2 separate regions of the Homo sapiens genome follow, and region 1 is linked to region 2. Evidence: fine-mapped expression QTL. A gene starts in region 2. The other region holds a variant in brackets. All regions are shown on one strand. Distances are from middle to middle. Region 1 overlaps ABCD3 (ATP binding cassette subfamily D member 3). Region 2 holds the start of ABCD3 (ATP binding cassette subfamily D member 3).

What was found. PIP is the estimated chance that this variant, and not a neighbour inherited with it, causes the effect.
Region 1: its variant is fine-mapped to the expression of ABCD3 in whole blood (TOPMed, PIP above 0.99).

The regions. Positions count from the first base shown.
Region 1 is chr1:94,460,375-94,468,722 of GRCh38, reverse strand. ABCD3 (ATP binding cassette subfamily D member 3) reads right to left here. Exons shown (of 23, transcript NM_002858.4): 3 at 3,850-3,948; 4 at 716-804. Among named protein-coding and RNA genes, the nearest start is that of ABCD3, 46 kb to the right of the region's middle. The variant C/A (reference allele first, on the strand shown) is at 4,794.
Region 2 is chr1:94,413,876-94,422,223 of GRCh38, reverse strand. ABCD3 (ATP binding cassette subfamily D member 3) reads right to left here and starts at 3,835. Exons shown (of 23, transcript NM_002858.4): 1 at 3,636-3,835. The coding sequence starts at 3,745. RefSeq lists enhancers at 3,244-3,383, 3,855-4,646 and a silencer at 3,714-4,093.

The DNA of each region.
Region 1 (8,348 bases), 46 kb before region 2:
AAGTTATTTTAGATTAAATACTTTAAGGAATTTTCTGACAAAATACTGCATACCAGGAAATAAAATTCCTAGCAAAAATGTTTACTCTGACATTCTAATTGGTATTATGAAAAATAAATTCTTTATTAACAGATAAATGGTAAATTGTTATAACCCAAGATATCCCAACTGACATTTTTTACGTTTTTACATTCAAAATTAGCAATTGCAGTGATTAATAATATGTAGAAAGACTATAATGAAAAAATATAAAAAGCACTATCACCAGATGCAGAAAGAAATGTCTAAGAATTGTCTTCCCTTCTAATAAACATGCTCAACGTGATTCTTTGAAATGCTTTGAAATTTTCCTCCAAATTATCTCATTAATTTCAAAAATCCAACTTGGTGGTTTTTTAGAATTCCCATTACAGCACTTATTATGCTGCATTTTAATTTTCTGTCTACCTGTCTCTAACTCTTGATAAACTGTCAGCTCAGCAAGGCTTGGTACAGTTTCTCCTAGTTGCTGGCATATAGACCCCATCACAGTATAGCACATTGCCTGGCACATGGGAAACACTAAGTATTTTTTAAGTAAATGAACAAACACATAATTTGACTTGGGTTATCTTTTACCTAACTTAGAATCTATTTGTTGCTTATAAAGATAATGCATAAATATGAGACAAATTAGCATTTCATACATATAGGAGGAAGGTGATTGAAAAAGTACCTTTCAATTAGTGTCCCATTTTGAATCATCCAAACATCACAATATGTTCGAGACACCAGCATAACAGCAATAAGTACCAAGTAACCTGTCTAAAATAAACCAGGTATAGTAAATTAAATACATGCATTTTAGAAAGTTCAAAGAAATATTACCTTGGTAACAATTTTTGGTTTCCAAATCTAAAGCTTTATGTAAGTTTCAATATAGTTGGCTGACATTTTTTCTATAAGTAATTTTAAATATAGTTTAAAGGGAACGCAAGAATATTATATAAATGAAAAAAGCCTCATAGATTCATTTAATCTTTCTCATTCAGAATTCAAAAGTGAATCCTAGGCAGGTCAAAGGACTTGCCTTCATATACCTAGTCAAGGACAGAAGCTGGGAATGTAACTTAGATTACCTAGATCATAGTGTATTGTTGATTTTCTTATATTTTGACATATAACTTTAACAAAGAAAAATGACAGTAACTGCACATATACAGTTATACAACTAACCAAAATTGAAGCCTAAAATTTTGCCTAGGTAGAATAAATTTGGTTTAATTTGTTAGAAAAATTTATAATAGTGTCCATGCCCTCATAGGGCTTTCAATTTAGTTATGAAGGGAAGAGTTACACATAAAAAGTAGCAGACAAATTTAGGCAAACATATTTGTATCATTTCATGTCCTAAGCTGTGGGATGGGAAGGTTTGGGGTAGCAAAAGACAGTTATGGCATTAGAAATATGATAAACAGTAAAACAAAAAAGAGAATGAGGATTAAAGGTAAAAAAGATGAAGGATTTAATGGGGGAAAAAAGGGATTAAAATCATATGAACTATGGTACTGTACTGAGTTTACACACATAAAATTCTCGCAAGCTTCTCAGTAGAACAAAAAGTGATGTTAAAAAGTGATGTTTAAAGAATATTACTTAAGCAATGCTGTGCAAGACAGATTACGAAGCAGGGAAAGTCAAGATGCTGGGTGACTGGCTGGGAATCAGTTATCTTTCTGTGAGATGAGAATCCTGCCACCCCAACCCCAAGTACACATATTTAAAGCTGATCTTAAATTTTCTAAATTGGAACAATAAGACAGTGACATAGAAGTTAAAGTAAGGGAAGAAGGCCTGCAGAGGGTGGGAAGCTGGCCAAATTAGCCCCTTCTACCTCCCTTACTAATTCCCAGGGACTCATCCAATGTTTCAAATTTGTTTTACATTCATTGAACCCCTGCAATAGTTAAAATGAACATTAAGCTGTTAACTGATTGGAAGGTAACATATGCATCTTTCCAGAGAAGCTTGTATTTTAAATAAGGATTCTTCAAAGGCAGGACAATTAGTTATGCCTGAAGAGTCACTGGAAATATTCACAAAAAAGATAAGCATTAAGCAATTTTTAAAAACATATTTGTTTTTGTTGTGGGGACGTACAGGATGTCACAGACATGATGTTGTAAACAAATGAAAGGCTGAGGACATAGGGCCAGATCGTAAAACAATGATCTCCTAAGCAGATGGTATTAAAAGGAAGGCCAAAGTCAGGTTGTGATTTACCCTATAAGGAAAATGAAGTTACATGTTTTGATTAGGATTTTAAGAAAGAATACAAATTGGAAAAGGAAAAGAAGCAAAAAGACCAATTAAGATATAATAATCCAGGTAAGATATAGTGAGAACAGTAGGAATGTAAAGGGAGAGAATAATTTATAAGAAACTTTAGGATACTTAGAAAGAACATTTATAATATAAGGGAAGGAGCAGATCTTAAAAGTGTGTGATCCCATTTTTAAATTAAAATATATGCTTGCACACAGGATGACTATATATCAAAACGAGTAAGAGGCTGATAGGTGCCAAAAAATAAATCTAGCTGCATTTTCTAATTTTCTTCAAGGAACATGTATTACCTCTGTCTAATTAGGAAAAAACAAGTGTCATTACTTTTTTTAAAAAAAGAATTTCTCAAGGGCAGAATCATCAGGAGATGATGCCAAAGTGAGGGAAAGAGCAAATCCAGCATGATGAAGGAATGTACGTTTTCTTTGGGAACTGCAATGCTTTTGTAACAGTTAAGTATAGGAAAAATTAGCAGATCCCAGTGACCAAAAAGGGTGACAAGGGGAAGAGGAAGAGCTGAAGGTAATGATACTTCTAGTTACAGAATGAGAGAATGCTGAGGAAGATGGAGAATACGGCATTATTTTAATAATCATTAAAAATGTTTATCAAATAATGAAGATAATCTTGATAAAAAAGCAAAGGAACGAATTATACAACTATTCGTATAAGCAGCTCACTTCCTGAATGAAATAACTGATGAATCCAGATATCATTTTGCATATCTTAAAAATATTTAATCAAATATACTCCACACTAATGTGACTTGTTAACATCTCAATGTAATAAAAGGGTTTGTCTTTTGAAATTTAATCTAGTGTTTATCAACAGTATTTAACTATAACAAAGCAACACCATTTAGGGTAGCTGTATGGCAGTACCCTAGCATTTCACATAAAATAAAATGAAATAATACTTCAGAAACAAGAGAAAACTATTTAAAAACTGGCACTGAACAAGGTTTTTTGTATGACAGGTGATGATTTAAAGACAAAAATTTAGTAATCTTCTTGACCTACAGAGAAAACATTTGACCTATAGTATAACCAAAGTGTTATGATTTTACTGTTCTAATCTTACATAACCTTGAAAGTTGAACACTTAATAATTTAATTTGGGTATCTGTCTCCACCCAAATCTCATGTTGAAATGTAATCCCCAGTGTTGGAGGTGGGGCCTGGTGGGAGGTGTTTGGGTCATGGAGGCAGATCCCTCATGGCATGGTGCTGTCCTCCAGACAGTGAGTGAGTTCTCATGTATCTGGTTGTTTAAAAGTATGTGGCACCTCCTTGGCCCTTTGCTCCCTCTCTCACCATGTGAGACACTGGCTTCCCCCTTCACCTTCAGCTGTGATTGCCAGCTTCCTGAGGCCTCCCCGGAAGTGGAGGAGATGCTGTGCCATGCTTGTACAGCCTGCAGATCCAGGAGCCAATTAAATCTCTTTTCTTTATAAATTACCCAGCCTCAGGTATTTTATTAAAGAACGGCCCAATATACTTAAGATTATAATTTCATAAGACTTACCTCTTTACAAAATGTTCTAGGGACCATGATTTTCAGAATCTGTATGAGCCTTGAGAAAAACACCTTGTCCACCACAGCTCGCTCCTTTTTCCCCTCTTTCTGCATTAAAAAAAAGAAGCCCTTTTAAGATAGCTATAACAAACATATCATAAAATTAAAGAACCATGTTTCATCTAAGTCAACATAAACAGCTATCAAGATAAAAACTGAATTTACAAAACACAGACTTGCATACTTACACTGCTCCTCATATTCAAACATGTTTTTGAGAAAACAATGTTATCTAAAAACTGAATAAGGAAGTGAGTTCTGGAACCACACAATTATCTGGGTGAAGAAAACTGCAAGCAGAAGAAATAGCAACTGCAAAATACCAAGGTGAACACCTGCAACGTGCTTGAGGAAGAACAAAATGGCCAACCTGGCTGGAGCTGTGAGGAAGGTACCATCACAGAGGACGAGGTCAGAGAGACAGCTGAAAAAAGGTCAAGGGTTTACTGAGTTTTGTATTAGCCACTTCCTGATTAACACCATATTTAAAAAAAAAAAATCCTGAACAGAATTTTGCCTGATATTAAATAGAGGAAACTTTTGGATTCCTAGATTTACCATTTAACATTTCCAATATACAGTCTGTCAATTCACTCTCTCTTCCTCATAAAATTCAAAGACAGACAAGGTTCTTTCACTTATGCAGCTCACATTCTAGCGGGAGAAACATAGACAAAAAATAAACCAATAAATAAATTATTACAGACAGACTAGACAGGGTCATGAGGGGAAAAAAAAGAACAGTTCACACAGGATGGTCTGAAAAGTCTCTTGACATTTAAGCTTAGACATAAATAAAAAAAAGCCATGTGATTATTTAAAGTGGGTAGCAGAGGGGAGGGAGTGAAGCACAAGGAACAACGAGCACAAAAATACAGTGTTGGAAATAAAAT[C/A]GGTGTGCACATTTCACAGCAAGATGGCAGTATTGCTGTAGCAAAGGGAACAAGAATGAGAGAAGTTTAAAAGGTAGGCAGGGCTTATAAAGGACAGAGCCTTGAAGCCACAGTAAAGATTGAGAGCTTACTGTGAGTGTAGAGGGATTTAAAAGAAGATAATCTTACCTCTCTCAAGAGTTTTTTCATTTTCACTAGCTCCATGAAAATGGAAGTACTAAACCATTTGCAAAGATAAGGAAACACGTGACGAGACTTACTACTCTTGGACTGTTTGGAAGGACAGGGGAAACTTCTTGGAAAAGGCAAGACACTCCAGAAAAACCCCAATTCCCTGACTAACCCTTTCCCCAACTCCATTATCACAGCTCACTTATCTGGCTAACTACTGTGCTCCTGACAAACAAATACCTGTTTGTATTAGTAGAGTAACGCTATTAGTTAGCTATAATGTAAATGTGCTTTGATTAAATAAATATCTAACTTGATGAGCCTTAAGTGAACTGTTTGGGTACTGAATTAGAATAATAATAACTACCAACTATGTGTCAGACACTGTGCTAAGGCTTTATAGACATAATCCTAAGAAATAAGCACTGAGTGCAGTGCAGAACTGTAGGCCAAAAAAGGAAGTCTGAAGGCACTGTGTTTATAGGGTTAGACTAGAAAGACTACAATAGGAGGAACTGGAAAAGAATCCACCTACCCTGCAACTGCTGGAACAGAGACTCAGCATTTCAGGTCTTTCAGACAAAGTTGCAAACCTCATCCTACTGAGTTACAGGCTCAGTCTACTTAATTCATACATGCTTACATTCATTCATTCAACAAACAACTACTTGATCCAAACCCTATTCCAAATGATAAGCACACAACAGCAAACAAAACAGACAAAAAGCCCCACTCACAGTCCAGTTAGTTGAACTAGCCTATTCTCCTCAAGCTAAACCTTACACATTCAACCTAATCTGTTTGTATTTTCCCCAAACCCAGAAAACATAGGAAGAAAAGAGTAAAGAAAAGGTGATACATATTAACTACCTTTTTAAAAAAAGAAGTTAAACTACTTGTTCTTCCTCCTATCGCCATCACCACTCCCTCCTCACTTCACCTTGCCTTACCTGTAGGCAACACCCTTCTCTATTGCTAGCTGGAACTTTAAGTGGCACAATCCTGAGGTGAAATGGACATCTGAGTTAAACAGAGGACCACCTGTTTCTAGCTACTCTAAAGAAATGATCTAAGACAAACAATGAGGAAAGTTAGAAAAAAAGAATTACAAGAGAGTAACGTTGAAACACTTTAAAATATTAGTTGCTAACTTGTATAAAATTCCTCCTCATTTTCTTCTGTTCCTATTGTCACTTTCCCTATCCTTAAACTGACTGAAACCTGATGGATTTTCATTACGTTTCAATCCATGAAAGGAACTAACTATATTCTTCCAAATTATCATTGTTTTCTGCAAAGGATCACCTGGACTGGGAGGCTGGCTCAGAAGGGCTGAATTCAAAGAGATGTCAGGAATCTTGATCACAGCAAAACTCTACCTGAAACCAATCTAAATAAGAGTAACTATAGAGGCAGTACATAATATTACTAGCCTTTCCTAAGAATTCATTTTAAATTCACAATGAACTTTTCCCACTTCCAAACTTTCCCAGTAATTTTTTTAAATACAAAAAAAGACCACTTTTCCCACTTCTAAACTTCCCAATAATTTTTTTAAATATAAAAAAAAGACCACTGTGGTGATATAAGTTTAACATGAACATTATAGAAAAAGCAAACAAATCATTAAAAGCTATTTGAGAAGTCGAAGTAATAATGCAACAAAGGAAAAAAGAAAACCTAAAATTCAAAAGGTAACAAAGGTCAAAGTACAATGAGAAGTTCCTATTGATACGTCAATCACCGTAGGTGAGACTGACTGAAAAAGATGTTTGAAATAGCAGTAAAATAAGAGGCCATGTAGTGCTGACAGAGTATAAGTATTCCTATACATTGTAGGGAAAAGTGAAAACTGGTACAACTATTATGTATCATTTATCAAAATGTAAAATGTACACTGACTGTAAAATGTAAAATAACCCAGTAAATTTACTTTCAGGAACTTACCCTACAAATATACCTGCACATATGCTTAGCCACACAAATAAAAACATCGTACTCGTTTATAATACCATAAAATTAAAAACAACCTGATGTACACCAATATTACATAAATCATAGCAAAATTATTCAATGAAAACTCTATACAACTGTAAAAAAGAAAGCAGCTCACATACACAGAAACAGAATATGAAAGAGCAGGTCTACAGCTTTAAACATGAAGTGACCTAAAAATTAGTATGCTGGAAAAAATTAGAATGATACATGCAATTCATTTTACACATGAATTTATGAAACTTTTAAATATGTAAAGTAATTCTAACTATATTGTTTATGGATACACACACATACACACACATGCCAAAATACAAAAATATGCATGGGAATGCTAAATACTGAACCCAGCACAGTACTTATCTTTATACATTTTGAATTTCATTATATTGTTCTCCAACTTTCTAATTAAATTCTTTTTTCCTCCTTAAAATTCACGTCTTATGAAAATTGCCTCTCCCCACCCTATCTCCATCACAAAGGATATAAAAAATTTCTACCAAAAAAATACGTTAAGTTGCTTTCCTCAAAAGTAACATATTCACTGTAGAAAAATTAGAAAATTCTGACGAGCAAAAATAAGAAAATTAAACCTACTGCCTTTGTTACATATCCTACTAGATTTCATTTTAGCACACGTGTGTACTTCCTATACATTTAACAAATGTGCTATCAGTGTGCATATTGTGTCCTTTTTATTGCCAATCACTTAATATAACCTAAATTTATCTTTCTCACACTATGCAACCAGCAAATAAGTATATGCTAAAATATTGTACAGAAAAATAAGAAAAAAATGAGTAAAATGAATCTAGCTGTCCTAGAACTTGCAGATATCCAATATGCAAATAAGAGATATGACTAAGTTCAGATAACTAACATTTGATTACTCAGATAGAACTTAGACATGAGAGATCACGGAGCTGGAGATATGCCAGAGAAGTGGACATAAGCACATCTTATCACATTTTTCAAAGACTAGGAAGGAAATATTACAGAGACTAAAGAACAACAATCTTGATGTCAATCACCAGGATATTCAGAGAACAGACACTGACATGGAGGGTTGGGGAAGACTTGAGAGACACTAATCACTAGAAGCCAGCATCAGTTTACTGAAAGTACGTCATGTTAAATTGTTCTAATTTTCTTATTTGTTAAGGATACCATAACTAGCATACTAGCTGATATGCAGAATGTAAGCTCCATGAGGGTGGAAACTTATTACTTACTGAAAGACTGACTTACTAAGTGAATTAATAAATTAATAAAGGAATTAGATGTTTCTTATAAAATTATTGTGGTCTCAATGGAGAAATAAGAACCAGATTTTGCTATAGTTGGATGTAGTCACAGCTGAATAACCAGAAACAAAGATTAAGAGATGTC
Region 2 (8,348 bases):
GCCACCAACCTGTACCAGTCCACAGCCCGGGGGTTGGGGACCCCTGGCCTACAGTATCATAAAAGCAGAGGACACTTACATCAGTTTGGAAATCAGAAAAAGACAGAAAACACCTAAGACAAAGTGTTGACTGAGTCTTGAAGAAAAAGAAGTATCAGCTGGGCAAGTTGGCTCATGCCTGTAATCCCAGCACTTATGGTTGGATGAGTGGGAAAAGTAGGGAAGGACCACACCATGAATACAGAAAGTTTGTATTTTAGAGTAGATTAATGATTTTAATGAAGGAATATTATGATCATATCTGAGCTTCTTAAAAAGAGCTCTGGTGGCAGTGGAAGATGGATTGAAAGGGCACCACAAAGTTTCTTTCTAACATAAATGCAACAAAAATCTGATAAAGGATGCTGTAACAGTCACTTTATTCCAGTTATCCACTCCTACCCCCTTTCTAGGCTTAACACACATCCTTCATGAAGCCTTCCCCAACCCTTCCCAAACACATTAATCTTGTCTTTCTCAAAACTTCTAAGACATGTCTATCTGTACATTTCATTCTGCTATCAGTGTTTAAGTTTCTTTTCCCTAACAAGAAGGTAAGCTCCCTGAGAAAACAAGTCATATATTTTTGTAATACACACACACACACACACACACACACACATCTTATAGCTCCCAGTACAGTAATATAACATTCTGAAATAGACACTTCCTTTAAATAGCCCTCTTTATCCATGAGTAAAAAGATTCTTCTTTTCCCCATAAATAATAAAATAAAAGGTAAGATTAGGCAAACTAAGGTGAAAAAGTTAGCTTAGCAGTGCTGGAATCAGGAGTGAATACAAGCTGATCAGGAATGAATACAAAGGAACTTTCTGGTGGGATAGAAATGTTCTAATTTGTCATAGGGATGTGTTACATAGTGTATCCATTTGTTTAAAAAATGTACAACTAATATTTGTACATTTCAATGTATATAAATTTTACCTAAAAAACCTATAAAAATAAGGGGTGACAGGCAGGTTGAAATAGATGAAACAAGAATATAGAATGTTGTTGGTACTCCTTGGGTAAAGTGCATTGGGCAATCCTTGTATTATTCTATTTATTTTTTATATGTGTGAAATTTTCCACAATAAAAGGTCAGAAACACACACACATATATATGAGATTTAACTGAGTGAAAAAAATTACATTAACAAAAATTAAAAGTAACCCAGAACATTTAATTACTCATTCTCCCAATGTTTGGAATAATGTTACACTGTAACTTTTAAAGTGATTTTACTAGCTCTATTACCTATCCAATTCTAAGGGAATATATATTCTAAAACCAACCTACTATTAACAACATAGACAAAAGAAGGCCAAGTAGCCACAGTTTCCTTAATTAAGCACCAGATATTAAAATTAATCAGTTCTGTTACCAAAGATATTCAAAAGCCCACTCAAATATAAAGTTAGAATCTTCTAATCTTCAAACTGTGATACCAAAGGTGGTGACTAAAAGATATTTGTAAGCTTCTGGAAGTACAATATCTACAAAAATACACTCAATACCATTTTTAATGGTTTCAAAATAGTTCAATCATTTCACCTCAACAATTTAAACTTCATGATTATCTGCTCAGAATCTGCAATCTCCTCCAACAAAATACTGTGTAAAATAGAGATTTTCCCCACTCATCCCAATGCAAAAGACTAATAATAATCTTTTGTTCAGTACATCTCCTGCTAAAGAATTTAATCCCCACAAAAGCTCACAAAGTTTCTCAAAAAAAAATTTTTTTAGGCATTTTACAATGGCAAATGAGGAGCTAAAATTATTTAATAAGACAAATTCTATTACATTATTTTACTTCTATCGCTACTATTTCCCAATAGATTCTGTTTAAAATTTCCCTTAGCAATAATCTATGGTCTTACAAACTGGTTTAGTAGTTAGGTGGACTGTGACTGGATGGGGGCATGAGGAGAATTTCTGGGGTGCTGATAATGTTCTGTTTCTTGATCTGGGTGCTGATTACACGAGTGTGTTCTACTTGTAAAAATTCTTCAAGCTCTATGTGTACTATATGTATGTGGCATGTATGTGATACTATATCACATATACATATAATCATAAAAGTAATCCAGAACTTGTAGGGCTGTCCTCGAGTCCCCTCCTCCATATTAAAACACCTGTTCTATGCCCTGAAACACTTCTTTGCAAAAACAGAATTCAAGTTAAAGGACCTAACATCTTCTTTCTACTGGCATGTTCCCAGGTAACAGGTAACTTCTATTTGCAACTGGGAGTTCATACAAACCAACAGAAAAACTTGCTTTTTATTTTCCCAAATTAATCCTTTTAAAAGCAAACTGAATAGAAGAAAAATGAGTAAGCGCTGTTATTGCCCAGACTATGCTGCAAATCATTTTCAACTCTGTTAAATGGATTTAGGAAGGAAAAGAAAGATCATCACTTCAGACTCTAGTAAGATAAAAACAGAAGGCGGCTAGAAAGAACTTAATGGAAAGGGTACTATAAACTAGAAGTCTATTTGTGTTTTAGCCCAAATTTTACTACTAATTAGATATTGTAGGCAAATCAAACACGGGAGGCAACAGTACCTGCTCAGAGGAATGAATGAAATAAAATTCATGAAAGTAGTATGTCAAGATTTAATACGAAATATTCAATGACTGGCAAGAACGCTTGGGAAGTAGCCTTTTCTCTTTCACTTGTCCAGCAAATAAAAATTGCATGTATGTGACATACATACCTGTATGTCGCAACCGTAATTCAGCTCTCTCTTTTTTACTTTTTCTGAACTGATAACCTCCCAAAGTTAAATCTAAGCACTGAAATTCTCCCGCGGTGGAAGCAGTGGCGTGTCATTAAAAAGGAGCTTGATCCTCACCTAAACCACACTCTCATCTTTCACCTACAGAGCCCAGGAAGGAAAACATTTCCCTCTAAGTCCGACAGAACCGATCCAGCCTTTCCGGATGAAATGCCACCGACCAAATGTTCACCGACCAAAGGGTTCACCGACTCCAAGGGCTCACCACTTTAGACGGCAATCCTGCCAAGTGGACCGGGAATAGTTTCATAGAAGCCACCCTCGCGACTTTCAATAGCAGTTAGTCGGGAATCGAGCCAAACCTCGTCCAAGTGACTTAGACACCAGCCTCCAGCCTGGCGAATCCAATCCCCATCCTCAATCACACATCCACGTCCCCAAAACAAATCCTTCACGGTCTGAAGATGAGATGGCAAAACCAGAACACACCCAGAAAGTTGACACAGAAGGGGGTGATGTAGGGAAGGGGGTGGGGGACACACCGCATCCCCCTCCCACCCCCAACTGGAGGCCGCTGCCTGAGTGCTGGCTGGGCGCCGGTTCGCCCGCGGGCACAGAAGAATTCGCACTCCCGGGGTGGAGCGAGGTCGCCGGACAGGCCAGCTGGGACCGACGCCGTCGTGGCGGGGACTCGCGGACACCCTGACATTGAAGTCCCACGGCAGTCGCGGTCGGCCCTCTCTCCGCCCGACCCCGTCGGGCAAAGAGACCTGTCGGCCGGGTGGGGAGAGAGAGCGCGCGGGGAGCGCCCGCTCCAGCCCGGGAAAGCTGCACGGCTACGGGCCTTCTTACCCGTGCAGGCCGAGGGCGCGGCGCCGCTTGTGGAGCAGGCAGAGCAGCAGGAACGCGGCACCAGCCAGCGAGGAGTTTCGCGCCGTCAAGTACTTGCTGAAGGCCGCCATGGCACTGCCGGTACCAGCGAGCCGGCGAGGGGACGCGGCGGCGGCGGCGGCGGCGGCTACCTTACTGCACGCAGCGCGGGGGAGACTGGGAGGAGAGCAGAGGGCGGGGCCGGCCGCGCAGGACCGCCCCCTGGCTCGCGCCGCCGCGCCGCCCGCGCTCTGGAGCCCACTTTGTACTTTGGCCCGGCGGGAGCGCGCTCGGCAGCCTCCGTGGGCGGAACAGTTCCCGGGACGCGCTCTGCGCACGCGCGGACTCCTTCAGGGTCTCCGGAAACGCGGCGCGGAGGAGCTGTTGCTACTCAGCCCTGCGAGGCGTCAGTGCTGCCCCTGCCTCACCCCTACCCTCCCACTCTTCGCGCGCACACCCCGGCTTTCACAATAACTGGATGAGCGGGCCTGGCCTGCAGCGACGACCTAGTGGGCCCTGCCTCTCCACTCCCGCGGTGATGTACCGTTACCACCCTCTTAAAGGAGCCCAGGAAGGAGGCGGACGGCCCCGTCACAGAGCGTGTAGGGAAAACACAGCACAGTGATTATCAGGACGAAACCAAACAATCGGAACTCCGCAGAGGTGTAGGGAGATGTGAGGAGAATGACACAGATCAAAGAGCTTTTTCCAAGCCAGTATTTTCCAAACCGCGGGTTATAATCTCTAGCGCATTGTGAAATTGGTTTGGTAGATCGGGATCATCACCCTCCGTTTTTAATAAAATTGAGAATAGAACAAAATAGAAAAGTTTCACAGTACATCACGTAGTAAAGGAGTTGTTTAGAGAAATTTCGATTTCAGTGTTTTGCACGTATGTATCGCCAGCGGCGATGTAAAATGTATGCAGATCTGGTCAGAAAAAAGTTTGAGAAACACTGTTCTTTGCAAAGGGACATTCAGAAGTAACAATCGTGCGTTGTATTAATGCTGGCCTCACTCCCAGAATCAGAAGGGCTTTGCAGATTACAACATTCTTCTCCTGTCTGACCCTATGTTGCAGGAATTGTTATCGCCAGCATTGAGCCTAGCATATATACAGTAACAGTGAATCGCTGTTTTCAGCTGAGGAAACTGGAGAAAAGCAAGTGTGTCAGAAAATAAGCTCATAAAACCTCGCATAATGCACATACATATTAAAGTAGCCTACAAAGTAGTGGTGCTGTGCCCTAGGTGTTTTCTCAATATAAATGAGCTGTTGCCTAATACAGGTTATGAGGATCACAAAGACGAGGTACAATAATGGCATGCGTATAGAGGTGCTCAACAGTGAATTCTAAATTATGCAGAACTGAAGCTCCTACTAATTCACTATTTGTCATGTGGACATTTTCATTACCTGGAGGGACAAAAGGTTTTGGCCCTCTGAAAGTTAACTGAAAACCGCTGACATAAGGCAGATTAATAGAAGAAAAAATTAATAGGAGAAAAGGCATACAAATTTAATGTGTATACATGGGAGCGTTCAGAATGGAGACCCAAAGATACTTGGAAAATTGTCCATTTTTGTGTTTAGGTTCAACAAAGTATGGACAGCTATGTAGAAATGTGATTGGACAAAAATGGTATAATCTAATGCTAACAGACTGAGTGGGGACACCCAGCAAGGCCTGTCTAGATTCTTCTTGGCCTTCTGAGCACCATTCCTTCCTTCTGGGTATAGGGCAGGAATGGAATGGAGCTCTTAACAGCCTACAGTCAAACAAGGCAGGTCAGATAATTTCTTTATGGCCAGATTTTACAGAAAAAGGGGGAGGGAAAACTAGCAAAATATGTTTAGGCTTTTATGGCTGGCTTTAGGGGATAGAGGTTCTGGTTTCTACATCTTGTCTTGAGGAATAGGGATCCTAATATCTATGGCTAGCCTAGGGAAATACGGGACTGAGAGACAGGAGGGCCAGAGTAGGGCAGAGAACTTTTGCTACTGAGACCTTCATTTTGGAGTATTGTGTTGTGAGCCCCAACGACCTCACATAATTTACGTAATTAAGTATGCCTGGCACAGATAACACAAGGATGAACAGATCATGGAGATCATATTCTCCAGAGGCTGTTAGAGAAGAAAAACGTGTAAAAAAAATCAAGTATAAATGTGGTAAGTACTATATTAGAGATATGAACAAGGTGCTATGAGAACACAAACATGAAAATATTTAGTTTTGTCTAATGCTTTCAATAAAGGCTTAAGGCTTGACAAAGGTGATTCTGTAGCTAAATTCTAAAGGACCGCAGGAGTCACTCAGGAGGACAAAACAGGAAATTACTAATTCAGTAATAAAGTGCTAGAAAAGAGTTGGGAACCTTGTGAGAAAGTAACGGTATCATCTTAGAGTTTGTAACAGTGAAGGAAGTACAAGCAAGATTAGTCAAAAACAGTCTAGAAAATAGATTTCAAAACAGTCAGAGGAAAGATAGAAATGATCTATTGACAAAACATTCTAAAAGTTACCCTTGTTCAAGAAGCATGGGAGATTCTAAAAAATTACACTAGTTATTCGAGCTCAAATAATTTTAGCTATTGATAAAGCCCATCTGACAAAAATCACCAGGACCAAATCTGGAACCCATTAAGTTTATTAATTTGCTACAGCAAAAGATACTATACAGCAGAGGAATTGTGGCCATGTCTCAAAAAAAAGGAAGAAATAAGGAGTCATTATAGTATTTAGAGAAAGAGAGGAGTTTAGGTAAAATCTAAATAAAGCAGTGCTTGATAGGCCTAAAGCAAATCAGATCTGTATGTAATATCAAACCTGGGCTGAGAAGCAGATTCAAGATTCTAGTTCTTAGAAACATACATTTAAGATTAATGTAGAATATTGTGTCTGAAAATCCCTTATCTGAACTTCTGCACTGGAAATGGAGACTGCTTCTGTAACTCTAAGTGACTCAAAGAGTTCAAATCTGCCAGGCAAGAAAGGGATGTTCTGTTCTCACTGATAGAATCTCAGAACAACAAACTTTCTAACAGTCTAGGATTTTAGAGAACAAAATTCCTCAGCACTATGTCCTTTGATAATTAACAATGCAATTTTGCAAGTTCACACTTCATAATATTAAATAATAAAGAAAAACAGAAAATGTGATTTTATGGGGGAGATCTCCAAGAGCTCTGATTTTTAAAGAATTTGAGCTACTGAGAACAGGTAGGCAGGGCATAGGAAGTTAGTGAATCTAGAAAGCCTCTGGAAGAAATGTTGTGTTAGCCAGACTCCAAGATTGTCCCTGGTGATCATGGTGTCCTAATATTTATGCCCTCATGGAATTTCCCTCACATCAGAGCTGAGTTTTGTGACCAAAAGAGTATAATGAAGGTGATGCTATGTGACTTCAAAGGCCAGATTATAAAAGGCACTGTGGCTTCTGCCTTGGTGTCTTGGATTGCTTGCTCTTGGGGAAGCCAGCTGCCACAGAGAGCACTCAAAGTGCCCTGGAGAGGAACTGAGGCCTCCCACCAGGAGCCAGACCAGCTTGCTAGCCATGGGAGTGGGCCATCTTGGAAGCAGATCCTCCATCCTCAGTCAAGCCTTCAGGTGACTGCAACCTCATGAGTAATCTCAAACCAGACAGCTCAGCCAAGATGCTGCTAAATTCCTGACTCGTAGAAACTGTGGAAGGTAATGTGTTTATTGTATTAAGTCACTAAATTTGGGGGTAATTTATTATGCAGACACTGTGACCTTGAAAAACAGATGGAAAAAAGAGGATTCCGAAGAAGATACAACAGGAGCAAAGATGCAGAGACCGAAGCAGATTGAGGAAGGTGATTAAGTCTGATGTGGATGGAGGCTGAGGGAGGCATGTGAAATGAGAGAAAAGTTTGCAATGTTTAACTGAAGTCAATTTGTGGAGGGTCTGAAACACCAATCCAACCGGGTAGGATTTTTATTCTGCATGTAGAAAGGTGTATTGCAGGTCTGGGGAAAGAGTAGTGACCTCAGGATTTATTTAAGAAAGATCATGCTAGTGGCAGTGTGTAGAGTGGGCTGAAGGAGGAACCATCAAGCAGAGGGACCAGTTTGAACACATGAAATAGTCTAGGTAAAAGGTAGTGACCATGTGAGTCAGGGCAGCACAGATCAAATAGGAAGAAAATGACTTTGTGGATTCACATAAAATGGAAATAGGTGAAATAATTAATTCATAGGAAGAAAATTTTTACATTGATTCTGATATTGCCTTGCTGAGTGTCTAAGAGGGTGATACTATTTACCCAAGGTCGGAGACACAGAAGTGGTACATGCTCATCAGGAAAGGTAATGAGATGCAAACAAATTCCTTACTAGTTTCTCATCACCAAGATAAACTGCAATAGCCTTAGCATCTCACACAAACCCAGTGATGATATAAGCTCTGCCTACCTCTCTAACTCCTATCTTGGCACTTCTCCCCTCCTACAGATATATTCTACCCCTACCCCAGGAGATAGATGCCTGCTATTCACTTCTGTAGTCTTCCCTTGAATATCCTATTCCTTCTACCTGAATCCCTTCCTACCCTAACATCCTCACGTTCAACTCAGTTTATCCTTTAAAACGAAGCGTTCATGGTCTCCTACTCTGAACAGTCATCTGTGACCAGTCCCCCCTAACCCCTTCACCCCATTGCCAAGTTAAT